5 separate regions of the Homo sapiens genome follow, and all the other regions are linked to region 1. The links come from fine-mapping of genetic effects on gene expression. A gene starts in region 1. Each other region holds a variant in brackets. All regions are shown on one strand. Distances are between the middles of the regions.

Region 1 (6,162 bases):
TTCCCATTAAAGGTAGGAAAGCTGAGATTTGCAGAAGTTGAATGGTCCACAATCCCACAACTGGTCAAGGTGGCAGAGCTAGAAATCAAACCCACGTCTTTCCACTAAAATGAGTGTTTATCACCCAGCATTCCCGAATCCTCTGGTGTGCTTTTTGAGGAGAGGGGCAAAAGAGGTTTCATTTGCTCCTTAAAGAGGCCCACAACCCCACAAACAGTGAAGGTGAACACCCCCCTGCCCCATACCATCACCAGTGTAAGAACCAGAAAATGCACACTGGACTTCAACCCCTTTCACAAAGATTATCACTCCTCTACTCCATAAGAGGGGAAAAAACTACATGGTTTGGTTTTCGTTTCACTTTAAAATTCTCAGAGCAAGTCAAGATTTTGCTCCTGGGAAATTTCCAGCATCCCATGCCGCAGGTTAAGTTACATAATAAATTGCAATACTGTATCAGTTTACACGCAATTCTGAGATTTCACAAATAGTGACCCATGTTATTTAATCATTCCACTTTCCAAAATGTGTTTCAATCAACCAGTTCTCACTGCATTGCCTGTGAAATAAGTTATCATTATATCCACTTCCAACAAAGCAAAGCACTGTCACCCTGAGGCCAGGCAATAAATCAGCGACAGAATGGGGATCAGAAGTTCCCCGACAACATCCCTCCCCACCACCTGCAAGACCATGTCACTTACCATGGAGCACCCTCCTAGCTAAATAGAAAACATAAAGCAACTAACTACTCTCCACCAGCGGCAATACTAAATTAGGAACTATTGGTGAATCATTAAGTTAGGGTACACCCCCAGCTTCCCAATGCCAGTGTGCTCATCTGTAGAAGTGGAGGCAGAAGTTAAGGGGCAAACACGTGGCACATGCCCCGCACCTTGAAAGGGAGATGTAATCAGCGAGGAAGGCTGGGGCAGTACAGGGTTTGATCATCTCCGCTAGGATGTAGCTCTGCGGTGGGTGAGGAACTCAGCAAACTCCTGACATCCCGCCGCTAGGATCGATTTGGAGCTATGGATTCATCTGAAATTCCTGATTCGAAACAGGAGTATGAGAGTGAAAATGAAATTTACCTTGAAGCTCCTCCTTTTACAGATTATGGAACTGAACCTCAGAGGAGTGAAATGATATACCCAAGGTCTCACCACTCAGTAGCAGAGGCAGTTCTAGAAAGCAGGCCTCCAGACCCTTATCCAGGATCCTTGCAATGGGGGCTTAGGGGAATTAGGGAATGGGTCATGGTTACTGCAAGTGGCTTGGCCAAGAACCAGCTAAGCAGCTAAGGCTTGTTCCATCTCTGCCAAGCTAGGACTCGCCTCCTCTCAACCTTGTGCCACATCCAGTTTTTGCTTCCAGGCTGGGGGCCTCTGATTGCTTACTCTAAGGGACAAAGGCAATTATTTACTAAAGCTAACCCCATCCAAGATGAGGAAAATACAACACTGGCACTCAGGAATTAATTTCACAATAAGTCTATGTTAAGGTGATGTTTTATTTGTGGCCCTGCCTGATCAAGATGACTTCCCCACAAGAAACGTCCAAAGCAAACAATCTTTTTTTTTTTTAAACTGAGTCTGGCTCTGAGACGTGAAGAATTGTACACTTCTTTAACTGTCCTCCAAAAGCAGAAAATAAGCCGGACAGAGCAGCCAGAAGGACACCAGAGTCCTATGCTCAGTGTGTCAGGAAGCGACCCACAAGTTCTGGAGGAACATCCTTCCAGGAAACTGGGCAGATACAGATCCCCCACCCCGCTCCGCCCCGCAAAAGGTAAGACGATCTGTACTCGGTTTGGTGACAAGCGTTCATCTGGACAAGCTGGAAACAAGTCTGAACGGGAGCTGCAGGCGCGCACGCCAGCGCCACCGAGGGAGCGCGGGGAGTCCTCTTCTCCCAGAGGACCGACGCTGCGGGGACGCGCCAAAACCACCCGCGGGCGATCCCAGGGGGCTGGCGCCACTGAAACCTCCGCAGGCAACTCCGCGGCTACCGCTGCCCCCCACCCTACTCCTGCCTCTTACCCCCAAGGCACCATTTCTCCCCCTCAACTCCCTGCCCCTCGGCCCAAGCGCTTCGGTGGGAAACAACGCCCACTTTGGAGAATCAGAGGTGAGTTGTGGGGACACGCCAGATGTCCAGATCGCATCCTTTCACAGATCAACCAAGTCAGATACAAACACGAAGGAGTTTGCTTCTCTGACATTTTAAAAACACACCATCAGGCAGCACACTGAGACACACACACGGGGGTAACAGCCACAGGGAAGTCAATAACCCACAGGGGGGCTCCTAACTATCGTTGTCCCGTGCTCGGGGCAGAGCGCTTGGGGTCCCTCCCTATCTCCAGGCCACAGCGCTCTCCTGCCCACTGCCTGTGCGCAGGATGGGAAACTACGGTCGCCCGGCTGCCGGAACCCAGAGTGGGCAAGCTGGGGAAAGGCCCACCTCCTCGTCCTGCTCCTCCTGGGACGCGCTGCTGCCCCGGGGCGCGGGCGGCACAGCTCCTCCGGGAAGCGGCGGCGGCAGCGCAAGGACTCCGCGCTCCAGCAGCACGCTTGCCGGAGCCCACGCGGCGGGCGCCCGGGCGCCCAGGGTGCCTCCCAACGGCGGCGGCGGCGGCGGCTGATGCTCTCTGGAGAAGCCGCCGGGCTCCCCTTCCTCCGACAGAGTTTCTGAGCCCGAGGAGGACTCGGCCGAGGAAGCACCCGGAGAGGACGCGGCGACCAGCGCAGAGGCTGGAGTCCGGCTGCCGTGGCCACTGCAGCCGCGGGGCACCGGCTCTGGCGCCTCCGAAACTTTCTCCCCCATTTCCCTGTCTGGCCCAAAGTGCCTCCCGAGCGGCGGGGGCGCGGCGCGCACTCAGCGCCTCCCGGGGAAGACGCGGGCTCCTGGGCTCAGGCTCACTGGCACTGCCGCTCCCGGGCTGCAGGGAGCCCCGCCAGCGACTACATGGCAGTGACGGGGCCGCAGGAGCCCGCTGCTAAGTTCACAGCCGCCCGGGCCCGGCCGCAAACGGAGGCTCCCGCGCGCGGGGACATGCCCGCTCGGGTCCGCGATCTGCGCTCCACTGTGCTCCCGCGCTGCACCCGAGCCGCGGGTACTGCGGCTTCTCCTTGCAAAACCTGCCTCCGGGACGGAGCAAGGAGACGGGCAGCCCGCAGAGCCAATGGCAGGGCAGGCGCGCTGGTGGGCGGAGGCTGCGACGCCTCCGGCCATGAGGGCCTCAGGTAGGGGAGGCGGGGCCCGGGCGCGGGCCGTGGTCCCGCTGGAGCGCCTGGGCGCAGGGGACAGGGACCAGGCGGGGGTCCCCGGAGGGTGGGGGCGGAGCCCAGAATCGGAGCCAAGGGCTGAGACTCCGAACTTAGCGGGGGAGTGGCTGACCGTCCTTGGGACGTCAGAGGGAGACGGCGAGCGGATGGTGAGACCTTGGAGAAGAACTGGACTTTGTCTCCAAAAAGTGGAATCAAGAAAACGGACAAGAAGGAGGGCTCTATAGGGAAAAAAGGAACCACACACACACAGTCACCCACGCACACGGACTCACCAGCGTGTTGGAGGAAAAGGACAGAAACTTCGTGGTATAGTGAGCGGACCCAAAGGGGAGTGACCTCTAATCTCTGCTTTTCCGTTTAAGCTCTTTGGGCCTCAGTTTCCTCAACTGTAAATGGCTACATTACTACTGGTCTTGGCAGGCTTAGAGCAAATATATATAATGCATCAGCAAAGTGCCTGGCTTGGATACACGGAGCGTTTTTAAAAGACTATTTCCTGTCTTTATTTCTGTTTGTAAACTAAAAAGTTAAGTCTGAGACTTGAACCTTTTGATAGGGAGGAAGATAAAAAAGTATGTCCTTGTATTTAATTAGGACCAAGCTCTGTAGTCCTACTCAAATTGTCTGTCTCGGTATGATCAGCTAAGCAGAGGATGAAAAGGATTCACTTTCCAATGTACATTCTCCTAGCCCTGGGTTGTAAACCAACAGGATACAGGACAGGTTGCTTCATTTTCCTTACCTCTAAGAACTAGGAGAAAGAACTTTCACTAAAGGTACCAATAGAGTACCCTTAAGTCCTTCCCTGGGGCTGGAGGATGCTGCCTGTCCGGTGACTGGAATTTCCTTGGAAGCCAGCACTCAGCTCAGCAGTGGGAAATAAATGATTCCTCTCTTGCCTTCAGCTCTAGTCCCATTCTGAGCTCTGGCACAGTGACCTGGGATGTAAATTCAACCGCCTCAGTTCCATGTACGTTGATGGAGATGTGTGCCAGGTGCAGGGGATACAAAGATTAATAAGTCAGGTCCCCTGCCCTTGAGCAGCTTATGGTCAAGCGAGAGATTGATACTGCATAATATAGCTCCCTTATCCATTTTAGAAGCTGTGATAAGTGATACAGGAAAAATGTGTGAGGGAGAAGAGGAAAGAGTTACAGAAAAACAGTAGCAGGTCCTTGAGCATCTTAGATTTCTCTTTGTCAGAGCAGCCTTGCCAAAGGTCCTTAAAAACTGGAGGACCCTAATTGAAAGCCCCTTCAGCTAATGAGCCTTTCATGCTATCATGGTATTTACAAGTGATACATCACACAGAGGGCTTCATCATATTGGACAGCAACCTTTGTCCTGATCAGTTTCCTCCCCTCAAGATGAAGGGGAAGGAAATACGTTTTGTCTATCTTGCTTCAGACAGCCATACTGCAAAATGGACTCCGGTTGTCAGGCTTTCATTGTGACGCTTCTGAATTATTCACAGGGATATGAAGACCTGCTGAGGCAAAAGGTCAAGTCTAGTGGCAGCTAAGTTGTGAGAGCAAGGCTAAAGAGAGAGCACAGTGGGGCAGTCCGAATTTAACCCGGGCCTCACAATTACTTTCCTATTTAGGAGTTCTGGTCTTTATCTGAGCCCCTACGTGGTTGATTCACCAGAGCTGAACTGAAATGACAATTTCAGCCATGCACATAAAAGAAGAGGAGGAGTTGCTTTTCAGTACATAGGGAAATAAGAAGCAAGGTCATGGTCTGAATAACCGACAGCAAGAATGACAATAGTTATTATCGCCTGAGTCCTCTGCATCTTCTCTGGATGGTCTCATTTAATCCTGGCAACAACCTTGTGAAACAGATTCTATTAGTCCCACTTTATTGATTAAGAAACTGAGGATCTGCAAAGGTCACACAGCAAGTAAGCAGTGGAGCTGTGGTTTGGAACCCAGCAACCTGATTCCAAGGCTGTCTTTCCTAGGCATTCTAGTATTAATACAATGCCACTCAAAACAGACAGCTTTTTCAAATATATATATATACCATATTATAAATATCCATAGGGAAGAAACTTTGCTGTATTGATTCAATCTGTAAAAGAAAATACTTGAGGAACATATTTGTTTTTCCCACAAACATTTTTAAGGTACTTACTATGTGCCAGGCAGGATTTTAAGCACTTTAAAATGTTAATATACTCAATTCTCATACCAGCCCAATGAGGTAGCTACTATTACTATTCTCATATCATATTTGTGAAATATGTGAAAACTATGACAGAGAAGTTAAGTAATTCAGCTAAAGTCACACAGCTAGCAAATGATGGACCCAGGATTCAGATTTGAACATTTGGTCCCAGCATTTGTGCTCTTAACCTCTACAGATCAAAGTCAAGTACTAGATCAGTATTTCTTGAACTTTTTAAACCTGAACCTCAAATAAGAAATATATTTCACACTGGAACTCATGACACATATGCATATGTACAAATACAAATAAAATGTCATGAGACAATACTTACCCATCCTTTAAGCAATGCACCCTGAAATTTATATTTTATTAAAAATAAAGATGCTAGTTGTAGTCCACTAAATAGATTTCAAACTCTACTTCAAAACTTGCAGTTTAAAAGTGTACTTGTTCATCTCCACACCCACCTGTGAGGGAAATAAACTGTAGTTCAGGCTAAGAGTATCCAGACCAGAACATGGCCAACTCAAAGGATAACTATAAATAGAAGATGACTAGAGAGTCAGGATAGTTCCCCAAAAGTATCCTAGTTAGACCCATGGATAAATTTCCTGGGGTGTGGCCAAACCACTGGACCAAAATCAGTTTTGATTTATCCAAATCCTGAAGTTCAACTTTCCTATCTTGTTAATTAAATAAT
Region 2 (6,162 bases), 440 kb before region 1:
TATTCGTTTTCATACAAGAGGTTAGTTCTAGGGCAGCAAGGCTTGATGGTAAATGTAAACATTATCCTAGTTATAGAAAGAAGGTACCAGTAAGAAGTATAATTGGTGGGTTTCAGAAACACAGAAAAACAAAAGCTTCAGAACCACAAGTTCAAAGTATCCACTCAAACACTGGCCAATGGCTTCTAATTGTCAACATCAAGGTGGAGCAACATGCAAGGGACTGCACTCAACAGACTTCAGTGCTTTGGAACAACTGTCAAAACCGTGCACATCAGCCCAATCTTGCTCTGCTACCATGGTCCCCAGACAACCTTCTTATTAGCTTCATGGAGAGGTCTGCCCAAAAGTGATTAAAAATAATAATAATAACTGCTAACACTGACAAAGCGTTTAACACACTCCAAGCAATGGTTTAATTTTCATGACAATCCTATAAGGTAGGACTTATTTTTATCCACATCTTTATAGATGTGAAAATTGAAGAACTGAGAAGTTCAGTAACTTGTCCAAGATCACAGAACTAGTAAGTGGGAGAACCGGGATCTAAACCCAGGCAGTCTGCCTTCAGAACCTGTGTTTTTAACAATCTTGCTAGACTGTCTACAAAGCAGAGAATAAGACCTTTGAAGGGCCTAGGCCCAATAATGATTATATGTACACTTATAAATTAATATCTCACCATTCTGGTCATACATAGAAATCACATGAGCTTGGTAACTAGGAATCCACAGCTAAGAGATGGAGCTGGTACTTAGGATACCAACCAAACCAGACTTTTGAGTCTGTAGCATGAGGGTCAGGTACAAGAGATAGTTCAAGCTATGGAGCTTTACATCAGATTGTGAGGTTTTTCCGGAGGCAGTAAGTCTGACCCTGGTGGACAGACAGTCCAGTATCACCAAGTGGGGCATGAGTTTTATCCCAGGATACACTTGTGTACAGATTTTTCAGGCTCATGGTAGACAGGTGGGATGTGGACACGATATAGACGCTCCTTCCTCCACAGTGTATTCTCAAAGATCCATAGGTAGATGATCCAACATATGAATTACCCAGGTCAACCAGGCACTTCCTTCCTTATGCCTGCCCAAACCAACAGATCTAGCCAGACACAGCTCTCTGGAGAGAACTGTGTTTATGCATGCAGCAGATTTTTTTTTGTTCTATTGTTTTTTAGTGGATTTCAAAATCAAATCCATATTTCTGGATCATGCCTCTTTTTATATGACTTTTCTGGTTTCTTATTTCTAGATAACTCACTCTCAGTGTTCAAGAGAACCCAGAAATCAGATTTGTGATATGAAGCATCCTTGTATAGCACTGGCTTTGGGGAAAAGAAGAATTAATGCCCACATTGTAACATGCGTCAGAAAGCAAATTTGGCCAGCAAATCAGAATAAGATACACTGACTGCATTAGTGAGATAAGTTTATATTATATATATATACACACACATATATATATATATATATAAAATCTCAAAATAAAGCAAACTCAACAGTAAAAAATCTTATATTTACAAATCTTATAGCCTTGTAACCCCAAATTGTAGATTCTTCTGTTGCACTTATTCTTTCAAGATGTTATTCCTTTAGTCTGGTATCTTCCACCATTACTATCCTCCAAGAACTCCCTAGACTCTAAGAAAGCAGACAGGAGAGGGATCTGTGTGTAGAAAGAGGCCTCACTAAATTGTGTGGATTAGATTAAAACTATGGCAGGAGATGGGATGAGACACAGTGCTTCAGTTAATGAGGAAAAGTTTAACTGTGGTTTCAGTCACTTTCAGATCTCCTGCCTGCCTCTTATAGGTACGAACACTTGTTTCTCACAGGTCCAGCCTTCTGTTTAATGAGAGGAACTCATTCGTCCCTAGCCTGAGATTTGGTCCTTATCAGTAAGTACTCCAAGCTCCAGGATAACACATCAATTCCTCCTCACCATATTCACCAGACACCCAACCTAAACTCATTCTGCATTCCCTGCAGTGACTCAGAGAGTTCCTGTTCACTGTGTCCCTGGATTCCTGCTTATGAAAGCTATGGAATCCCTGACCTTCACATGGAAGTACTGCTAAGCAGAAATTCAATGGTATAGACAGATGGCACCCTACTGTGTCAACTTTCCATATTGAAAGGGATTGTGAATAATTCACCCACATGAAATTAAACTGCATATCAAGACCAGAATTAGGATGCCTCAACTTACTGAAAAGAAATCAACGGTACTATGAAAGAAATAAACATGAACTCTTCTATTGCTTACTTCCACTTATTATTTTTCTAAATAGACCCTAAATCCTATTGAAAGGGTAAAATACATCTGAAAACAACAATGCAGTTAAATCCATCTTGAAAATAAAACCTGTCGATAGCTACCAAGTGAGTCATTCCTTTGGCTTTGTGGTCATAACATATTTCCATTCAAGTATAATCATAAAATTGTGGAGCTCGTTTACATAAAAGAAACAGTGTTTTCTATGTCCTTAAATTAAAGATCTCTCTCCAGAGCCCTGGGTCTTAAGATACTAGCTTCAGTGACTATTTATTACAAAAGGCTGCAATGTTTTCTGAACTCACAAAAGTATATGGTAAGGAGCAAAACCACATTGTACTATTAGCTTGCCTCCTGGACAGTACACCAAAAATTTGATGCTATGTATTTCAAATAATAAGAAATCATTTTCATTTTATTTTTTAAAAAAAATCACATGAGCACCTATTTTTGTATCTAAATGTGTCAATATTTTAAAATAATGTATAAGAAGGGAGATGAGTGGTAAGCATGAGGTTATGCTGTCTTTCTACAAATTGAAGACTAGCACTTGGTGATAAACAGTTTCACAGGACAAAGTTAACTTCCACTCCACTCCATCAACACCATCATCAATTTGGTTTTCTTGTTTTAAGGTAACTTGTTTTTCTGATGTGTAAGTAGCCACGTTACTCCACCAAAAATCCCCTAACAGTTTTTAGAGTATCTTGCCCCATGCAGAGGACTGGTACCAGGGCCCAAGACAAGTGCTTACAAGGAGTTTGTAATCAGGAAGTCTAGGGAGGGTGACTTTTCCTTGCATTATTAAATAGATCCATTGTTCAGTTAAGTGACTTTGTATAACTGGGAGGACAAAAATAAATAATAAAAATCAGTCTACCTAAGATTTGACAAAATCTGTGTTAAAAAAAAAAAAAAAGAGAAACTAAAGGCAAAAATAAAGATAAAGCAGCATATAAAATCATCTAAACTAGAATTGCAACTGTTAGAGAAAGATTTCAATAGCCAGGTAGACAAAGTGTTCCCATCATAGGTTAAGGTGTTTTCTGAAATAAATGCTGTGGAAAGAGAAGATATTTAACAAAGAAGCAAATTTCTTTTTATCATTAAGAAATATGAAAAAGGTGGATGCAAGAGGTCTCTAGGAAGATTATTTAATGTGTCCATAATATATTGTTAAACAAAACATAATTCCACTTATGAAATTTTTTTTTGGATTATTGTATCAGGCAAACACCAGAAGAACGAACAATTAATGTTTGTGTTCTAGTTTTAAAAAAGAAAAAAAAA[T/AT]CCCTGGGCAATGAGTCTAGCATCATAGTTAGAAAGAATTAATGATATATTAATTATAAATGATAACTCTATCTCCCAAATTCTCCTGGCTCTTGTTGTCAAAGCCTTGAATCAGAGATGGGTCATTTTTCAACTGTTAAAACTTCCTCTTAGAGAAAGAACATTGATTAGTTTTCTACTCTCTCTTCTAAGAGATGATTTTACCTCAAAAAGATTAATCTCTAGCTCATCCAGGAGAAAGAGTTAATCAATTTGTATAGAAATGAAGAAAACTGCTTCCCTGATATTTTTTAAATGTTTTATTAAAAATTGATAAGATCCAGGAATAGAAATAGGGTTGACAATGTTTCTTAGGATAGCTCATTTTTTGCTTCTTCTGTCCTCCAAATGCTTTTTATGTACTAAATGAGCTATGTATTTTTAATACTCTACTCCATAATACAGATCCAGTTCTGTCTGAGTCACACCAGCCTAAAATCAAATGATGACAAAGTCTAGAGGGAAAAGAGGGCATTTCAAAAGAGAACAAGGACTAAGCCTGACACAGAACAGGCTTGCCCTCCAAGAACTGGGAAGCTGGAACCCTCAACAATCACCTCTCTGCTTAGCCACTAACTTTCTCGTTTCTTCTTTTTATTTTATGGAGATGGGGTCTTGCTATGTTGCCTGGATGGTCTTGAACACCTGGGCTCAAGTGATTCTCCTACCTCAGCCTCCCAAAGTGCTGGGATTACAAGCTTAAGCCACTGCACCCGACCTTTCCTTTTTACTGGAGACCACTCAACAACCACCCTGGAATTAACGACCTCTTTTATGTGGCAGGTTTTTGTTTCTAATCAAGCCAATTAACAACAAATCTCCCCTATACATACATTTCTTTTTGGCCTTTTTCTGGGATGACAATGAACAAAAGACAGTGAGGGACAAATGATTAGTCTCTTTCTCCTAAAAACCCTGAATAAAATGTAGTCAAGCTATACTATCACCACAAGATGGGATTACTCCAAAAATGCTTACAAAGACATAAGAGAAAATATATAGCATCCAAAGACTGATATTAAACATCAGTCTCTGTATCCGTGAGTTATGCATTCATGGATTCAAACAAATTCAGACAGAAAATACTTGGTGAAAAAAATTGCATCTGTACTGAACACATACAATTTTTTTCTTGTCATTATTCCCTATACAATACGGTATAAGATCTATTTACACAGTATTTACATCACATTAGGTGTTATAGGAACCCTACAGATGATTTAAAGTATATAGGAGGATATGGGTAGGTTATATACAAATACTATGTCATCTTATATCAGATTTTGAACATCCTCAGATTTTGGTTTCCAAGGGAGGTCCTGGAACCAACTCCTCGGGACACTGAGGGACTACTGCATAGAGAATGCAAAGAAGATGAATAGGAAGAAAATGTACATAAATCATAATAGTGATTACTTCTCAGTGGCAGGAATATGGGAGTATGAATGTAGGTATGCTTGTACTCTAGCTTTCAAAAATTTTTAATCATGAATATTTTAACCTCTTAACCTGGAAAATGTGAGTTTTACAAAGAAAAGCTGATGTCCTTTTAAATATTGCTAGCCACAATTTCTAAGCAGAAAGGCAGAAGCTAGAGAGGGTGGGCAATGGGTCCTGTAACAGGATACTTTATTGAGATACTAATTTGTGGTATTCTTTCTGCAGGAAGAGAATGAAAAGTATTTTTTCCTTCCTCTATACCAAGTCTTTGTATTCAGAGTCTGGCCTCCTGGGCCTTGAAGGGTATTTAATGCGTTTTGGTCCCAGGAAAGGGAATGGATGTTGGGAAGCATGCTAAAAGCAAGTCCCAACCCAGGCTCTTTCCTGAGACACTCCCACAGGGAGTGCAATGGGTAAGCTTCTCAAGCCTAGAGGGGTCTGCTTTCCTGAGACTGGGGTAGGGAATGAGGGAGGCAGTGGTGTCTGGCCTCCCCATAGCATTTACATTGTATTAGGTGTTATAAGTACCCTAGACACGATTTAAATGCAGTAGTGTCTGATCATGTAGCTAACCATGTGAGTAACAAAAACCTGTTACTCCTTTCCACTGACGGACTCCAAGGGGTGGAAGATGACAGGCTCCATGGTGGGCATTGTGTGGCTTGGGGATAGAGGTGAGCAACACACAGTGAAGAAAGGAAGCCAGGCTTACTGTGTAAGTGCCAGTTACGGATGTTCCTGCCCACCACCGGCATCAAGGAGGACCACATCCCAGTTTAAAACAGGCAACATCACTCCATGTGGGCTTGGACAATAAGTAACTCTGATGAGTAGGAAGTGATTCCTGGTTTCTGTGTCACTTGACCACATCATAAAGGTTACATCAAGCAGCTACAGTAGAAAACTTGACATAGTAGATCCCGCTTGCTTGAGAAGTACCAGCCAGCCCTAACTTACTCAATGACAACCCACAATACCAGCAAACTGTCTTTCTCAGGAAATTATCAATATACTGTATGCCATTTTTTTTTTAGCCAAAGTCTATCCCTCCTCAGAACCTGACTTAAAATGTGAAAACAAAGCACAGAATGCTGACTGTACAGTTTGCTAATGAAA
Region 3 (6,162 bases), 460 kb before region 1:
TCCTAACATGGAAACCATGTCTTGTATCATCCAGGCATTTAGAAATGGAGAAAGAAATAATTAAAAAGAGACCCCATATAAAAAGGAATTCTGTATTTTAGAGTCCAAACACTGAAACAGAGAGGATAAGATCTGGGCTAACATATCGCAAAGAACAACTTAGGGATAAAACAGCAGGAAAACAAAGATAACATGTGAAGACATACCAAATATCAAAATGCATTAATTATTTTAAAAAACCAACAAATAAAGAAATAAAACAAAACTCAAGAAATGGTAACCAATTACCTGCATGAGCAGAGAGAGGTGAGTGTGGTCGAGGCAATGCTGGTGACTGCCCATTGCCTATTAAGCTTTTCCGGTTGCTTGTTCGGCAACTATCAAAAAGAAAGAAAAAACAAAGTTTAAAAAGAATATAGCATCAATAATGTTCAACCATGTTCCCGGTAGACATGGACCAGGTTGAGCAACCTATCTGCTCATGTTATTGTTAAAATTATTACAATTATGCATTCACTAATATTTGAGGGGTGGCTACCTCTTGAATATTAGAAAATATAATGTATTCATATAGCACAACACCATCAATATTCCTCACCACCAGTGGAGCAATAATCAAATGCCTTCTTCCAGCGCTTGAGTGCAAATATGTAACATGCCATACACACAAGTGATAAATTAAGGATTCAAATCAGCAAACCACAGGTAGCATCTTTGTTGACACAAAATTTCTAATACAAAATTACATGCAATGAAGTGCAGTGACATTAATCTTATAATGACGCACTAATTAAAAATCTAATTATTTAGACAAATTTCTTATTTGTGCCTTTTGTCAATAGAATAGCTGATGCCTAAGATAAATGTGTCTCACCACTCATTCATTTTTCATCTTGTATATGGCATTCAATTCTTTATTAAGGTAAATGTTCTGGAATCATAAAATCAGATCCCAGTGTATTAAAATAATAGTGATGGTCCTCTTTCACAAGCATGCTAGCTACTGGTTTTATCCTGAGTACCCAGAGCATAGAAATAAATTACTACACATGGGCACAGGGCAACAATTTGTTCCTGTTTCTGCTAGAAGGAAGTTATAAAATGGCTAATTTGATTTCAAAGTAACTTTCAAAAGCCTTAAAGAATAAGACAAATACAAAACTGGCGGATGGGTGAAGTGGATATTATCTTATTTTCATTTGCTTTTCTTCAAAATAGACTGGCACTTCATTCTCTATTAGCAATACAGTAGTCAGAGGAGGGTGGTAAAACCCAGCAAGTTACCTCATTTAATTCACCTATAACAAGGCTCAGGGCTCTGTGCTTCTATCCTCCTACACTGTGCTGCCCTCAACCACCATTAGGAGTTTATTGCAATGCCTTCTTAGTGCAGGACAGAACTCTGTTATACCAGATTCCTGAAACAGGAATTTTCACTGGACTTCTAATTTAGGTACAGTGAGATAACATTTCTAAATATTCAAATAATACATTTCAAAACCAAACCCAATTTCTTTCAGCAATACAGACTTGGGAGTTATCTTCTCTTAGATGTTTGCTGCTTATTATCATTTGTCAACAGTCCCATATTTATAATTTCTTAAGGTCAGGCTGCATCACTTTATTTTCCTTAGTGCAGCAATCAGCATCCCCTAGTATTATCTGTGAGTTTAATTAAGCTCATGTTTACTCAGCCTTAAAGCAGTTGTTAATAAGAATAGACTTTTGATATTTAATTATGAAGGTGGGTTGGATATTATCAACTCATCTATCAAGAAATGTATGTATTCAACCTATTAAATTCACAATCATTAAATCAGACAGTCTGATTGGTTTTAAAAGATACTGTATAATGTATTCAGTGTTAATTCAAATTAATGTCTTCTTTCATTCCAATACAGAAATATTAAATATATTAACTTGCTGATGTTAATAGAAGAAATTATAAATGACAGATTTATGTCCTGGAAATGTCAGCAAACTTCTTTCAGCAAATTAACTGAAGTTCAGGTTATTATAAAAATGGCTACATTTTTTCGTGTTTAGCATTTGATCTACATCATGCATAAAGATCTTTTCAACATATTTATTGTTTATATGCATAAATAAAATTCATAAGAAATGTCTGTCAATGCAAATAATCTAATGAATATCTTAACTAGATATATCAGTGAAATATGCTGATATACTTAAAACTAAATTTAGAAAATGTTATTTAAGAAAAACTTAAAAAATTTCTAAGAAACGTACACTACCATACATACTAAGGTACATACACTACCACAATAGGCAAAACAATGAACAATTTAGATTTTTTAAAAAATGAAAACATGAACAACAAACCCTCACAATTCCATTAGTTATTTAAAATCTATCAAAAAGGGGTAGAAAAGTGATTTCAAAAATGTGATTCAAAAAAAATATCAAAAAGAAATGTCTAAATAAAACCCCCAAATAAAATATACTTGTTTGGTCAATATACAAACAGATTTACATTACAGTCATCCTGGGTGCATCTACTCCTCTATACAGATTTCTAATCTTTATAAATAGATGATTCATTATGAATGCAATGTAGAGTGAAAGAAAACAGGCTATTTCATCTATGAATACATGAG[A/C]AAGTTAAAAGAAGAGAAGTTAAAAACAAATTACCTCAGAATTTGAACAGTTTACCATATTTAAGGTATGGGTAGTATGTTACACAAAACAAATTATCGAAGGTATATCTTATTGACAAATGCCATGAATAATCAAAGCATAATTCATCACTGAAAGTGTCTCCTCTAATCTTTTTTCCTTTCAACATGAAGCTAGAGATGATATTAAAATTACAACAGACTTGGAACTTTCTGGGATCTCTCTCAACAATGAAATAGAAAACTTTTAAACATCAAATGATCCCAAAGTAGCAAAGCCAGTGTTTATATAATATAGGCTGATATATTTCCATATGTACATGAAATAAATCTGTATACTTATGAAATGGGGTCTTCGCCTTATGAATGAATTTGTTGCTAAAATTTTCAAGGGTAGAGGGACACTTTACACAGCATTTCATTCCCAAATACCTATATCTTGATATATATATCTAAATACTTTTAAAATCCTAGGACCCTACTGAGATATTCTGTAGAAAACCTTTCCAGGGTACAGGAAGGAAGAGTCATCCAATCTCAGTATTACCTGCTTCTGGGATATCTGACAGTCACCTAATCTTATTACTCTAAGTACCTGATTCCCAATAAATGAATTAAAATCTGCACTTAACTCCAACAGTAAGAAAACTTCAAGTGGGTTAGAACTGCATCTGTCACCCAGGTTGCCACAGCACCTGGCAATGCCCACATTAATAATAACATTGGTGCAAAATGCTGAGCTGACCTCTGTCCTCCAGGTATCACACACTTTCCTGCCCATGAAAGCAGAAGTTTATGGCACCTGCACGTCAGGCAGTCTCTCCAGGTGTTCATGGCCACACCTACTCATTTAACCCATTAAATGATAAAACAGTGGAAACATCTCCACTCAGGCAAATTAAAGGCTCCTTCCTTTTCACCAGCACAACTAAGTCAATTCTGCCTTGTTTTTTTTTTTTCAAGCAAAGTCACCCAAGGGAAAAACAGGTGATGTCCGACCAGATTAAACATGAATACTACTTCTCCTGTAGCAGAAATATCTTTTTTATAACTCACCCTTATCTAAGCATTTGAGCTTGTAAAGAGTTATCTCCAGTTTTCATCCTCAGGGATACAGGGACATGACCGCAAAAATGAAACTAAAGAAAAGTTATGAACTCAAATTGCAGCTATTCCATCCCCAAATACATTCTTTTGACTTCATTCTTCAACAGCTAGAAGCCATTCACCATGCCCATGCTCCGACGTGAAAGCCCAACATGAGACTAACCACTTCCCACAAAGTACCCTCTATCAGTTCTCCAGTTGAAGCAGCACATGGAAAAACTTACTTTCCTGTGGGTGAGTTGCACAGTTTGTTCTCTGAATTTGGAAAGTGACAACTATTGTTCTATTAACACAATGGCACAGAGTCACTACTTGCAAATTCAGAATTTAGGCTGAGAAGACAGTCATATAACAACTTGAGACAATGGCATAAACAATGGATTAGGACAGGAGCTGATGATCACAAGCATTTATTTTTACTTCATTTATCTGGTACCTCCTTGGGAAGCTCCTCCTAGGGGCAACTATGAGACACAGAAAGATAACTTAGACACAGAGCACAAGAAATGCACCTTGCTGACTACAGAATCCGAGAAGAATGGGAAGGGGAAAAGATGTTCTGATGATAGGACCTTGAGGGAGGACTGGCTGCCCCTGAGGGGCAGGAGGTGAGCAGGCATGGACAGAACACTGCGTGTAAGAATGTCACAGCTGAACAGGTGCTTGGGTGGAGATGCTTTGGAGTGACATGAGGTCACCACCAGGAAGTGTTTTGTCTGCATGGTTTTTGCTCAGGCAGGTGAAATGAGGACTGAAAGAGGCACCACACCTGCTCCCTGAGTTCACTATTACCATCGCGAAAACAGTTTCACAAGGAGCTTCTCAATTTCTTAATTACTGCCAACAGCACCTCCCATTTGCTAAGAAGGTGAAGAGACAGGCCATGCATTTCATCATCTAAGTCAGGCCTGGCTCAGTGTGAGGGACAAAGAGGACTATGGGCTACTAAGCTGGAGGCAGGTGGGAAAGGAGGTGTATGTATTTTTGGTTCCAAGTACCCCATTCCATTTCTGCAGAAGTTGTCCTTATGCTCTGTGCTCCATAAGAAAGGCTTGGTGGGACCTGTAAAAGTTTCACACCTGGGTCTGCCACTTGTCTCCTGGCAGAAGAACCTGTTAGCCATCCCCTACCAGGTCTCTGAAAGCTGTGAAGCCCACCAGGCTGTGGCCTTTTCCAATTACTCTGAGTAGCTGAAATCCAACTTAATTTTAAATTACATTCACTTTGAGACATAAATTCTGATCATTTCTGACCATGGCAAGAAAAATGAAGAGAGGAAACCCCGACAGGCAGTGATTTTTACATTGACAGCTGACTTGAAAGGTCAACATTCAGTAAAAAATAAGACTAACCACCATTGAGGGGCAGTAATAATATAGTGAATTGAGTAAGAGGGGCCCCGGTAATTCTGGAAAGCTAGAATTATTACATCGTCCTAATGAAAATTTGATAAATTTGCACAGGAGACCCATCATAGACCAAAGCTTTACTGTCCATGAACATCTGCTAACTATTTCCTCACACCTTTAGAGAAGATGAACATTTGAATATTTCTTAAAGAAGAAGGCTGAAGTGGAAGAAATAGGGCATGACCAGGAGGCAGAAATTGTCTAGCTAATGTGGTAATGCTGCATAAATGTTATGAACTAAGCAGCTTTCTGTCTCCATTTCTTCACAATGAAGGGATTGAAACAGATGAGATAAATATTCATAAACTTACTTTTTTTGGTCTCAAAAATTTTAATAGAAAAATAATCCAACAAATCCTACCACACTGGAACAAGCAACTGTATCATTTGTGCTATTTGTTTCCAATCTTTAAAAAAGATATAGAAACTAGAAAGAGAACAAAATGTACTCTCTGAAGTCCAAGCCAATAACATATTCCAGTCCCCAAAAGGCAACTACTGAAAGAACTGGGGCTTGCAGCTTGCCCATTCATTCTTGGTATGGTAGTGTATATATATATATATATACGTATATATATATATACACGTATATATATATATATATACGTATATATATATATGTGTGTGTATATATATATATACATATATATATATATATGCTATATGTATAACCACACTATATGTGTGTGCTTCCACTTTTCACTAGTAGTATCACATAACAGGAAAAACAGAGACTTGAAATTGTACAAAAGAAATTAACAGTTACCTTTTAGTGGCTTGTTGGGCTTTGTATAGCAGACGATCCCTGGGAATTATTTGATTCTGTAAAGGTATACACATTGTTTTTCTATTGACTAGGTGATTTAAAAACTCTGTAGAAGCTGAAGTTAAGTAGAAAACTGGGAGTAATGCAAATGATTCCCATCCATAATAATGTAAATGAATTTTATCTGGTGAAGATACAATTAATGTCCACCCCAAGGAAAGATGACCTCAAATATTTACTATCA
Region 4 (6,162 bases), 430 kb before region 1:
TTCTTTCTTTTTTTTTTTTAAGGGTTAGATGTTCACAGTAAGAACTAATTAACTGCCAAGAATGAGATGGGTTTCCAAAGGAATGCCATTCTCCTCATCAAATACTAGTTTCTATTTATTTTAAGTATGACCATTCATTCTTAATCTGAAAGTCTTCGTAAGCATGGTTAGAACAGGGCAAAAAGTATTTATATATGATTCTACAACATAAAGTAATTATCTTAGTGTTGGATTGAAATTCACCTGTATACATATAAATATGGTACATCACTTTTCATAGTTTGTTGTCTGTACAATATTGAACATGAAATAAATGGCAATAGGTCTGAGCTACTAGATGTTATTTGTAGTTACTATAAGTGTGTTTGTGTATTTCTGCTTAAAATATAGATACACATCATTTTCTTTTTCAAGGGTTTTGAATTCTGTTGTTCTCAATAATCCTCTCATCATTTACCTAAAAGTCTATGGTAAATAATCATTGTACATACTGACACATGTGACCATATGAAATAGGTAAACCACTGATCCAGACAGACCAGACTATGCTGCTGAAAAATCATCAAGTCAGGTAAGAAGTAACCCTTATTTTGTTCTTGATGTAAAATAATTCTGCCCTCCCCCAAAATAAAAATGGCGTTTAAAACCGGTCTTATTTATTCTAACATGATACCTTATAGCTCTCCTACTAGGCACTGCAGACAAGCATGTATCTTGTTCTTTCTGTGACCCTAATGCAATACCTGGCACAGAGGCATGCTTAATTAAACCTTGCTGAATAAATGAATATTTTGAAAGAATAAGCCAATAAAAATGAGAAAAGATAAATTTTGCAAAAAACGTGGGTGGGGAAGTTTAGTCATAATAAAACCCAACCTTTCTTAAATCTCCCCCTTCTCAAATTAGTGGAAGTTTCCATTTTACAGTTTCTCCTAAAGATCCTGGAATCTTCATTAGAAAGCAGAGATTGTGGGTCAGGCTGTGCTGAGAGGTAACAAAGTCAGATTTTTTCATTGGCCTCCAGAGGCTTAATCTAAAATGGATTACAGGTACAGCAGGATAATTCACAGAAAGATTTAGGCAACTGCAAACATTCTGAAAGAATCTATAGATTAAATGAGTTAAAGCAGCCATGGAGCAAGAGTTTTTGGAAGGGGGGCAGATTGCTTTTGACAAATAAGCACCCCTTCAACGCAAGTGACAGAAGTAGGTCACGATGAGTAACTGAATTTTCCACTGATTCATTTCCACATATATCAGAGGCAGTAAAGGACACCAGTGATCTAGTTCTCCACCTGTAAGAGCTGTACAAATTAGTTCTCTCACGAAAGAAGGTGGAATAAAAACTGACCCAGCAGGGAGAACTGCCATCCTGACCTATGAATAGGTCACTAGGCAGTAAGGTCAACAGGCCTGACAGGAATATTCACTTCAGAGAAGTCCCCCATCTTTAGAAACTCTAACAATTTAGATTGTAGGGATATGGGAACAAGATGATTCCTGCTCTTTCTCCAGCTAACAGATCAGCACAATCAGGTTTAATGGTGTTATGCCAATTAACATGTATTTTACAAATCTTCACTAAGTCTGTACGCAGTTTTTCAGTGTTTAACTTTGAATGCAAATAACCTCTACTTTAAGTGTGATAGGGAAAAATTTTGCAAATCATGTCTAAATACAAATTCATTTATTTTAGTGCAAATGGAGCATACCACTGTAAATGTCAAATAGTCACCATCCATTATGATAACAGGGCCCAGCCAATCTTTCCAACTTATTCAAAGTTCACTGCATGAATGATCCAAGCCCTCAGTCCCTAGACAGAACTTAAAATATGTCCTTATTAAAAAATTCAAGGGCAATAAATCAGGCTAAAAAGGCGACAAGAGACGACCCTCCTCTGCCATCAACTCTGGGAAATGCCCAGGGCTTTCTGCTGGACTAGCCAGGGAGCTGACAGATTCTCTGTATCTATGCAGAGGAAAGCAGCAAAGAGTAGCAATTTAAAGACTGATAATCTCCACCCACCAGGAACTGATATTAATCTATTTAATAAACGCATACATTTTAGTCTAGTCAGAGATCATCCACAGATGAAAGTAAATGCTTTTTTCACATAGGAAAAAAATATCCTATGTGGAAGTGTTATCCCCAATAGACATCAATTTTACTTTTTACAGGACAGTTAATGAGTTAGGCAGCATTATCCACACTTTAAACAAAAGTAGTCAAATTCTAGCAACTTCTGAAATACCAGCCAAAGCTACAGGAAAAAAATTTCACCATAACAGTTAATTGGCATAGAATCAACACCCATGACCTTGGCCTCTTTAGCACAATGTTCTATTGCACTAAAATACTAAATAAAAACATAGCGTTTGAGATACCCAAGGCTTTATAAAAGTAGACGTTGTAAGAGAGTGACACAAACACCCAAGATAAAAAAAGTGCTGAGGTACAGAACACTTAGAAGAGGTTAGGTGTTCCAAATATACAATGTTTGTATGGTTTTAATGTTTTAAACTAAACTCCCTTGAAACTACACAACAGAATGGAAGGGCTTAAAACCACAACCTCATTACTAATACAAAACAGATCTTATTTTAAATATCACCCCTTAGGACTCTGACCAATTTGCCCCAGGCCTGCTCTGGAATGGTGATGTACAGAAATGAAAAGGTATTTATTTTCTGAGTTAAAATGTCACTCAGATGATCTATTTTTGCCACCAGTGCTATGGTTACCTCTTCAAAACCAAAATGATGATTATGTCATTTTACCACAGCTATCTAATAAACATCAGATGGTCATCTCAGAGCTCTCATTCAGTGCTAACCTGGTTCAAGCCAAAGTTTAAAAAGAAAACAACCCTAAACCATCAAATATTGCTTGTAACACTATAAAACAAAAGAGATACGGAATACAGGTATCACACCATGCTATTACTAAATTAACTATAGAGCCTTTATGTTGTATTGCCCTGAGAAATGATTTGTTAAATAAAAACCTATAAGGATGTG[A/C]ATGACCCATATGTATACAAAATATTTAGATAATAAAAATACACATTTAATTTGAAATTTGGTTTTACAATTTCCTAGATGCTCCTAAATATATATAACACTTAACAAGGAATCATGTGAAATACTAGTAAATTTCAACCTTAAACATACATTTTTATTTAATTGAAAAAATTTCATTAAACAAAATTTAAGTATATAATTTAGAGAAATTCAAATGTATAAAAATAATATATAAGTCTTAGTTTCAGAATAATTAGGATTAACTTTGTGCAAACTCGTAAACAGGACAAACTTCAAGTCCACAGCAATTTCAATAATGTTGTTAATATCAAATTATAAAGTCAACAGCAATGAATTTATATTTTCCTTTCTCCTACCTTTTTCACATGAGGAAATGTACTTTCCTTCTAAAACTCCTACTATTCCATCCACCTCACTTTCATTCTTCATGGACACAGAAATCATGCTGCCAATAAAGGTTTTCTAAGTAGCAAACACTTTTTGTTCTTATCAAAAAATAAACAAACAAAACCCAACAATCAAAACACACCATCACCTTGCCATAGAATTTTGCAACCCCAATTTCCTGCTCAATTTCTTTCAAACCTCTCCAGCCTAATTTCCTTTTTCTTAGAGATGAAATACACAGAATGGTAAGGTCCCTCAATATACTTAACTAAAAGAAACATGCTAGCAGTTTGATGACATTTCAGTAGGTATCTGATCCTCCTACAAGCAAAGATGTTTACATCCCGAATATTACTCCAAAGTAAAACAAAACATATATGCCTATGGGAAACATAAGTATAAGGATGGCTCTATGGCTTGTCTTTCCTAGAAAACACTTTTAAAATCATGTACAAATTGTCTCCCCATCCCCACCTCCATTTCTCTTGGGAATGCAGAGGGCCAGAAACCTTAGACTCTGACCTGGGTCTAAGCAGACCATAAATACTTGAAGCTGCTGGAAAATAAATATTCAACACTAATTACCTTTGGCACTCTTCATTAATCTTTATGTATATGACTTTTTTTTTTTTGAGAGAGTGTCTCGTGCTGTCGCCCAGGCTGGGTGTAGTTACGTGATCATGGCTGCCTGTAGTCTCAACCTCCCAGGCTCAAGTGATCTTCTCACTTCAGCATCTCAGGTAGCTGGCACTACAGGCACATGACACCATGCCTAGCGAATTTATTTATCTTTTATTTTTGTAGAGATGGGGTTTTGCCATGTTGCCCAGGCTGGTCTTGAACTCCTTGGCTTAAGCGATTCACCCACTTGGGCCTCCTAATGTGCTGGGATTACAGGCATAAGTCACCATGCCCGGCGGTGGATGACTCTTAATCCCCAATCTGGAACTCTCTTGCCTTCCATCCAGATCCACATATCCAGCATCTCCACTTGGGTGTGTCTATAGAAGCTCCAGTCCAATGAATCCCAAACTGAAGATATCATCTTCATCCAACGTGTCTTGCTTCTGTGTTCCCAATTTCAGTAATTGGTACCATTGTCTAACAGGCTAAAGCAGAACTATGAGCACAACCTCCACTTTAGTTCTTCTTCACTCTAATCACTCAGTTAGTCATCCAGTCTTTCAGAATCCACTTCCTGAGCGTCTCCCTTCATTCTCACGGTCACCAGCCTGCTTGTGGCATCATCACCATCTGCCCCAGAAGCCCGTGATGCTTGCTCTAACTCAGATCCTGGAATCCTTTTTGCACAACTCCAGTTCAATCCCTCATTGCTAGGAATCTTTCCTACAGGCAAATGTGATCTTATTGTCCTGTACAAAACCCTTCAGTGGCACCTCCTACCCTCAGAGTACATTTCCTGTTTGCCACTCTAATGGAATTGCTCCTCAACTCTCACTCGAGTCTCTGTACGATAGCTATTTGTTTTGTATTGTTGTTGTTGTTGTTTTGCCTAGATTACAGTCTTCCACATTTCAATGATCTCTCACCCATCAAGGTTGTTTACTTCTTTCACAGCCCACTTTTTTGTTGTGTGTCTCCTGGATGCCCTCAAAGTTCACTATAATCCCCACCATGCATGGCTAAGAAGGAGTAAGACAGACATATACTCACACATGATACTGTAAATTCTGTTACTTCTTTGTGTTTTCCTGTCTCTACACCCAACTCCACAGCATTTCCCATAAAGCTGCAAGCGTTCAAGAAGGTAGAGACTCATCTGTCTCCTTCACCACTGCCTCTCCAGCACAATCCCTAACACATGGAAGGTGCTCAACTGATATTACTGAATTAATGAACAAATAAATGCAGAGGATGGAGAGTCAACTACACTCAGCTCCAAATTCCAAGCTTCATCTCCAAGTGAAATCTCCTCTGCATATCTTAAACTTAGAGGTGGTTATAACAACAGATCCTATCCTAAAGAGTAGCTTCCAGGAAGTAAGGATATTTCATATCTGAATTGCTTAATACAGACTAGAAGTCAAAAAATTCCTTCTTCATCCAACTCTATTCATTAACAATCCACAAACATGTTTTTAGACTGAAAACCCTTATGGTGAAAAGGCTTATTCTTATAAAATGCACAGCTTCTACTTTTTACTCTGACAGGTAAAGTTTATATTTGGAATTATCAGAAGAAAACTAGAAGGAAGCTCTGCCATCTTTGATGCAGTTCTATGGTTAGAATCAACTGTGCATTCAGGAACCATGTCTAAGACTCCATCACTAAACTATGTTTCTTTTTGCAGTTGTACCAGGAGGTATCATTAGCCCTCCAGATCCTTATGTGCACAACGTGTATTTACGTTCATCTGTGAGTGCATACAGAGATATGGTACTTGGCTAGATTCAACTTTGCTTCCACAGCATAGTTGGGAATCTGATGAGAATAAAAAACATCTGTATGAACTCTTGGTCAAGACAGATACAGTTTATTTTCTTTTTGTAATAATTATATATTTCAGTGAATTCAGTACTGCCAATAAATACAAACAGCACTCAAATCACCTTTCTTAGTACAACATTAAAGTATAAAACTGCTGTCTTCTACACTAATTCTCTGAATTGTATCATTAAAAATGTAGATAAATATCCTTACATATTTTGTAGCAATAACTCTGATATTTTACAATAATTATATAAACATGTGTTCTTGAAGATAATAATCTTA
Region 5 (6,162 bases), 400 kb before region 1:
CTAGAACTGTGAACAGCAAACTGGCTGTCCTGAATGAGCAATCCTTGTAATCATTTTGTACATCCCAAGAAATAAAGTTTAATACTGGGACAGAAATGGGAAGAAAGTTACATCAATGAGGAACAGGTTGAAGAAAGCGTTTCTAATATTATTAAACAAATTTGCACTCACAATGCTAAAATATGGAGAAAGATAAAAAGATAGACAACAATTAACTTGTAGGGATAGGCCTGAATGCTGAAAACTAAGACAGATAATAGGCAAGGTTGTATCATCCTGGAAAATACCAAAAAATATTTTAAAATAATGCCACAAGGTAAGAGAGGTTCAGATTTTTAAAGTGAATGAGTAAAATGAAAGAAACATTATCCTGGAAGCAAAAAAGGAAAAGGAAAAAAAAAACCCAAAACAAAGGAAACAAAATAAGAATTCTATTTCCTGATGGGTTGAGCAAAGAACTACACAATCTCCGAAGGTAGTGTAAAGGATACAGTCTGAAGCAAGTAAAGGACATGCTAAAGACTGGCCAGAATGGGAAGAGAATGCAAGGTCTTTCTCAGGCATTCTCTGGATCCCAGGAGAATCAGAGACACGGAAAAGATTAGCAGATAACCTATAAGCTAACAAAATATAAGAGAAGACAGTGCATAGATATGGGAAATGAAGCACTTATCTCCCAAGGCAGTGAGTGACTCCTTGATATGTATGATTGATAATTAGAGTAGAATACATATATGGCACACAGCCCATAGGACTGGAGAAGGTGCAGAATCATGTCTTGCAAGCACACTCCAGCACTCTACCTTCTGACTTTCAAGCAGGGGAAGTTCCTGGGAGAAGCCCCATAGCTTAGTCCCAACAGAGTTCCACCCCGTGGGAGAACAGCTGGACACACTGCCAGAAAACACATGGCATCCTTACAGGGATGAAGGGGTCATGCAAAAGAAGGAGACTACTGGGCAAGATCCAGAGATGAGTGTATCTCTCCATTCTAAAACAGCTGTCTGGAAGATCCATCAATAAACCACGTGGAGCACTGGCCTCCACCCAAGCCAGTAATCCAATTATGAAGTAGACAGCAACACTTGGAGATCAATGCATCACCCGGCAAACAGAAAACCTAACTCCTATCTTGTTTTAAGACCAACCTTGTTGTCACTTTAGGCAGCCTTCATGGGAGCCCCCCATCCCCAATGAATTAGATATCCCTCTACTGGGCTGTGCTCCTGAGAGCTCCTGCATGAAAGGGTTCTTCCACTGTATCAAAATCCAAATCATTTTGTGCACATTATCAGTCCCTATTAGAGTAAGAGCTCCTTGAGGGCAGGGGCTTTATCCCCTCATCTTTAAACCATCACTACCACCATTGGGATGAATATTAAGCAAAGGGAGAAAGGGAACAATAGAGAAAGGATTGGGGGTGAAGGGGTGGGCAGGGGAAAGAAGAGATTGAGGATGGATTTGCTACAGGTTAGAAAGATGTGTGATAACAAAGTTAGGGCTACCTGCCTAATATTTTAAAGACTGACCCTATATGTGTTTTAAAAACCTTTTCCTGTCTATTTCAATTTCAGTTTCATGGGTCCATGAGTCCATTCCATTATCTATATAAGCTGTACCTATTAGGCAGGTCTACTGTTTCAAATTTCAAAATCTCAACAGAGACCATGATAGGTAACGAATTGCGTTTAAGTATAAATATACAACTAGTTGTGTATGAAGTGCTAAATTCTTTTTGATGGTAACAGTGAACCATGGCTACTAATCATTGCATTAGATGCTCAATCTGGAATTAACTTCAAGGACAAGGTGCTTCTTGATCCAGAAACTTGGGTCTAAGGTGCATCATTTCTTATACAGCTCTTGAGCATGAATTATAGTGCAATTATAAGAAGTGTCAATTTGGTTTAAGTGGGTCAGCATGGTTATATTTAGCCCTTTCGTAGCTGACACTAAGACCTTTCTGTAATTTAAGATTAAGGTTAATTTATCCGTTCTTCTTTTCTTGAATATTTTTTCCAGGTCATACATCTAAAGTTATGGAAAATTATGCCATTAAAATGAGAAGTATGAGTTTTCATCAAAGTACCAAACAGGGAGCATATACAGAGGTAGAAATCACATGCTTCTGTAACAATCGGAATTTCCTTCCATTGCTAAGATCAATTCCAATTATTCCACACATCGGAAGATATGTCAGGGAGGACATGAAGTTATTTAGTCAAGGAGTTCTATTAAGTTATATCACTTCTATACCAACAAAAAGTTTAAAAGAAACGTTAATTCATAGGGGTATAAATATAATGTCAGGCATGACAAGTGTTAACTCTTACTAGTTATCATAAAATGTAATTAAAACATCAATCAGGCTGGGCATGGTGGCTCACACCTATAATCCCAGCACTTTGGGAGGCAGGTGGTGCACCTGAGGTCAGGAGTTCAAAACCAGCCTGGCCAACGTGGCGAAACCCCGTCTCTACTAAAAATACAAAAAATTAGCTGGGCATGGTGGCAGGTGCCTGTAATCCCAGCTAGTTGGGAGGCTGAGACAGGAGAATTGCTTGAACCCCAGAGATGGAGGTTGCAGTGAGCCGAGATCATGCCACTGCACTCCAGCCTGGGCAATAGAGTGAAACTCTATCTCAAAAAAAAAAAAAAAA[G/AG]AGAAAAGAAAAAAAACACATTAATTAGGTATCAATTTACCTGTTTCACTGGTAAAGATTAAAAAAAGATAATACTCAATGTTGGTAAGGACATGGGGAAGATAAGTACTCTCTACTAACTTTCTGGAAGGCAATTTGGAGAAGGAAAACATATACATACATAGACCCATATATGGTCACATACATATATATACATGTAGTAGGCACATATGTGTACATGTCCAAACACATATATAAATGTATGTGTCCATATATACATGTACATATAATATATACATAGATATATTTGAATTATAATTTAATATGCAATATTTATACAAAAGATACAATCAAGTATGCACACAGATTTGTGGATATGGAAATTAATCTCAGAATTGCTTATAATAGCATAATGTTGGGAAAAAGCCAAAGGTACAAGATGAGGGCAATTGTTAATACATCCTAAAACAGCCACAAAATAGAATTTTAGAAAACCAGTAAAGAATTAGAATTACAGTAGGCTGAATAATAGATTCCAAAGATATCCAGGTTCTAATCTCTGGAACCTGTGAATATGTTACCTTATATAGCAAGAAGAGTTTTGCAGATGTAATTAAGAATCTTGAGATGAGGAGTTGGTCCTAGGTTATCCAGGTGGGCCTTAAATATAATCACAAGTGTCTCTATGAAAGTGAGGCAGAGGGATACTTGAAGAAGGCAGCAATGTGGCACTGAAATGAGATGCTAGGCTGCTGGGCCTGAAGATGGAGGAAGGGGACAAGAGCCAAAAAACTGCAAGGAATGCAGCTCTAGGAGCTGGAGAAGGCAGGGAAACAGATTCCACCTCAGCGCTTCTAGAGGGAGCTCAGCCCAGCCGACACCTTGATTTCAGCGCACAGAAATTGATTTCGGACTTCTGACCTTTAAAATTCTAAGAGAATAAATAAATATAAGCTAGTTTTAAGCTAGTTTGTTATAATTTGTTATAGTAACCAGAAGAAACTAAAACAATGATATTTTTAAAAAATATGTAATAAATGGGAAATGCTCCTGAAGTAATATTTTAAAATCAGAAAAAAATGAAGTTCTATGATCTACATTAAGATATTATATATATGGTTATATACGAATAAAAACGATGGAAATCAACAAAGTATATATATATATATTTTTTTGAGATGGAGTTTCACTCTTGTTGCCCAGGCTGGAGTGCAATGGCACGATCTCGACTCACTGCAACCTCTGCCTCCGGGGTTCAAGCAACTCTCCTGCCTCAGCCTCCCGAGTAGCCGGGATTACACGTGCCTGCCACCATGCGCAGCTAATTTTGTGTATTTTTAGTAGAGACAGGATTTCACTATGTTGGCCAGGCTGGTCTCAAACTCCTGACCTTAGGCAATCCACCCACCGCAGCCTCCCAAAGTGTTGGGATTATAGGCGTGAGCCACCATGCCTGGCCAACAAAGTATTTTTAATGAACATCTGTCAGTACAGAATTATGATTTATCCTCTTTTATACTTCTCATGTTTTTTTACAAGTTTGTGTGTGTGTGTGTGTGTGTGTGTATGTGAGTGTGTTTTGAGAGAGCATCTTGCTGTCTCTCAGGCTGGAGTATAGTGGTGAAATCATGGCTCACTGCAACCTCCAACTCCAGGGCTCATGTGATCCTCCTGTCTCAGCCTCCCAAAGTGTTGGGATTACACATATGAGCCACTGTGCTATGCCTAGGTTGTTTTAAATTTAAAAAATTTTCGTCTGGGCATGGTGGCTCACGCCTGTAATCCCAGCACTTTGGGAGGCCGAGGCAGGTGGATCAAAAGGTCAAGAGATTGAGACCATCCTGGCCAACATGGTGAAACCCCGTCTCTACTAAAAATACAAAAATTAGCTGGGTATGGTGGCGGGTGCCGATAGTCCCAGCTACTTGGAAGGCTGAGGCAGGAGAATCACTTGAAACCGGAGGTGGATTTTGCAGTGAGCAAAGATCACACCACTGCACTCCAACCTGGGAGACAGAGTGAGACTCTGTCTCAAAAACAAACAGACAAAAAAATTTCTGATTTCCAGGAGCCACACATTTGACAGTCCTATTATCATGACCTGAAAGTTCAAGTTCCTGAGAATTTTAGAATACTTTGAAGAGTTTACAAACTTAAGAAAACAATACACACTTTTACTCTGGTATTTTAATAAAATTTGATTGATATTTTTTGACACACGAAATAATGCATATGCATTAATAAAAGCTCTATGAGTCTTGGAAATAAATACTAAAATTGCTTTTAAAAAGAAGTCTTTCCTACTCTCAGGAATTCTATAATATAAAAATGAAAAATATCTCTGATTTCTAGATATAAATCCTTACTACCTTGTCTATGGCAACTGGGCAAACGGGTATTTTCAAAGCCGACTGGGCTTTAAATCCATGCAGTGCTTTGCTTTTGTTTGAATATATGTGTCATTATTTGCAGATTGGTGAGGCTGTGCATTTATGTGAACAGTTTTGAATTCCAGACCTGCTTCCCTCTGTCATGTTGTACAATGAAAAAGCTTTCTTTCACTGCTCAAAAAAAACATGAACTCTTGAGAAGCAAACTTACTTTTAACATTATCTAGACATGAATATAATAAAAATAATGCTCTTCATTTCAAAGAATTAAATAGCTATAATTTGGGATTACTTCCTCCTTTCTCCAAAACACCCTAACTTGTTATTTCCCATGAGACTAGGTAATTCAGTTTAAACTGTCTGTATATAGTTAGACTGAGAGTACTGAAAGGTAAAGACGACGTTTCTGCTGCCAACCATAGAAATATTCTTGTATTCAATGTACTGTCATACATGTTATAGAAGACAACCATATTAAAGTTCCTGGTGATCAAAAAACTTTCAAAGAGAAGTTACTCCAGTTAATAGGAATGAGAACAACAGCCAGTCAAGTTACTCAATATAGTGACAGGTGAGTGACAAATGAATGAATGTGAAACAAGAATTGTCTTTATAAGTAGCTTTTAGGAAATGAAGTACGTACAGAATTATTAAGAATGCTAATATACGAAGGAGAAAGAAAAACAAGGCCAGAGGACATGTAAACAGCAGCAATAGAAAACTGAAAAGAAAAGCAAATCCCATTTAAAAGTGGCTGAAAAATACACCAGATTGGAAAATTGGAAAATAAAAGAAAATTGGGTAAAAGTTTTCACTCTGTATAAAATGATAAAGGAACAATAGATTTTCATGTCTTCTCCTCACTTGCCATGACCCTGGTCATGGCTTCCACGATCTCTTGTGTAGATTAATGCGGTACCGTTCCTTCCTCTTGGTGCTCCTCACTGTCAATGTGAAACCATTCTTCCAAAACTGCTCAGCTCAAACAGGTGCACGCAGTCATATCACTCTCCCATGAAACAAAGTTGAATGGGTCCCCATTGTTCTACAGCAGTATTTCTCCACACATGGTTTCTGTCTTATCATCATTGAATCATCTGGAGTGCTTGTTAGAAATGCAGATTTGGTGGGGT

Which allele goes with the higher level. Alleles are on the strand shown, and positions count from the first base shown. SD is a standard deviation of normalised expression in the study named. Not every link is listed here.
For the expression in Th1 cells of the gene that starts at base 3,089 in region 1, T is the high allele of the variant in region 2 and AT is the other (moderate effect, 0.55 SD a copy in Schmiedel 2018).

Evidence for each region. PIP is the estimated chance that this variant, and not a neighbour inherited with it, causes the effect. A credible set is the group of variants that fine-mapping cannot tell apart.
Region 2: its variant is the best candidate, but not a certain one, in a credible set for the expression of MAST4 in Th1 cells (Schmiedel 2018, PIP 0.55).
Region 3: its variant is the best candidate, but not a certain one, in a credible set for the expression of MAST4 in blood mononuclear cells (TOPMed, PIP 0.54).
Region 4: its variant is the best candidate, but not a certain one, in a credible set for the expression of MAST4 in blood mononuclear cells (TOPMed, PIP 0.86).
Region 5: its variant is the best candidate, but not a certain one, in a credible set for the expression of MAST4 in NK cells (Schmiedel 2018, PIP 0.57).

The regions. Positions count from the first base shown.
Region 1 is chr5:66,593,320-66,599,481 of GRCh38, reverse strand. It overlaps MAST4 (microtubule associated serine/threonine kinase family member 4), which reads right to left and starts at 3,089. Exons shown (of 29, transcript NM_001164664.2): 1 at 2,464-3,089. The coding sequence starts at 2,826. RefSeq lists silencers at 2,344-2,493, 2,504-2,643, 3,254-3,453.
Region 2 is chr5:67,035,276-67,041,437 of GRCh38, reverse strand. The region is part of intron 4 of MAST4 (microtubule associated serine/threonine kinase family member 4); the gene reads right to left. Among named protein-coding and RNA genes, the nearest start is that of MAST4-AS1, 34 kb to the right of the region's middle. The variant T/AT (reference allele first, on the strand shown) is at 3,568.
Region 3 is chr5:67,048,619-67,054,780 of GRCh38, reverse strand. MAST4 (microtubule associated serine/threonine kinase family member 4) reads right to left here. Exons shown (of 29, transcript NM_001164664.2): 5 at 289-377. Among named protein-coding and RNA genes, the nearest start is that of MAST4-AS1, 48 kb to the right of the region's middle. The variant A/C (reference allele first, on the strand shown) is at 2,619.
Region 4 is chr5:67,027,032-67,033,193 of GRCh38, reverse strand. The region is part of intron 4 of MAST4 (microtubule associated serine/threonine kinase family member 4); the gene reads right to left. Among named protein-coding and RNA genes, the nearest start is that of MAST4-AS1, 26 kb to the right of the region's middle. The variant A/C (reference allele first, on the strand shown) is at 3,021.
Region 5 is chr5:66,993,932-67,000,093 of GRCh38, reverse strand. The region is part of intron 4 of MAST4 (microtubule associated serine/threonine kinase family member 4); the gene reads right to left. Among named protein-coding and RNA genes, the nearest start is that of MAST4-AS1, 7.1 kb to the left of the region's middle. The variant G/AG (reference allele first, on the strand shown) is at 2,661.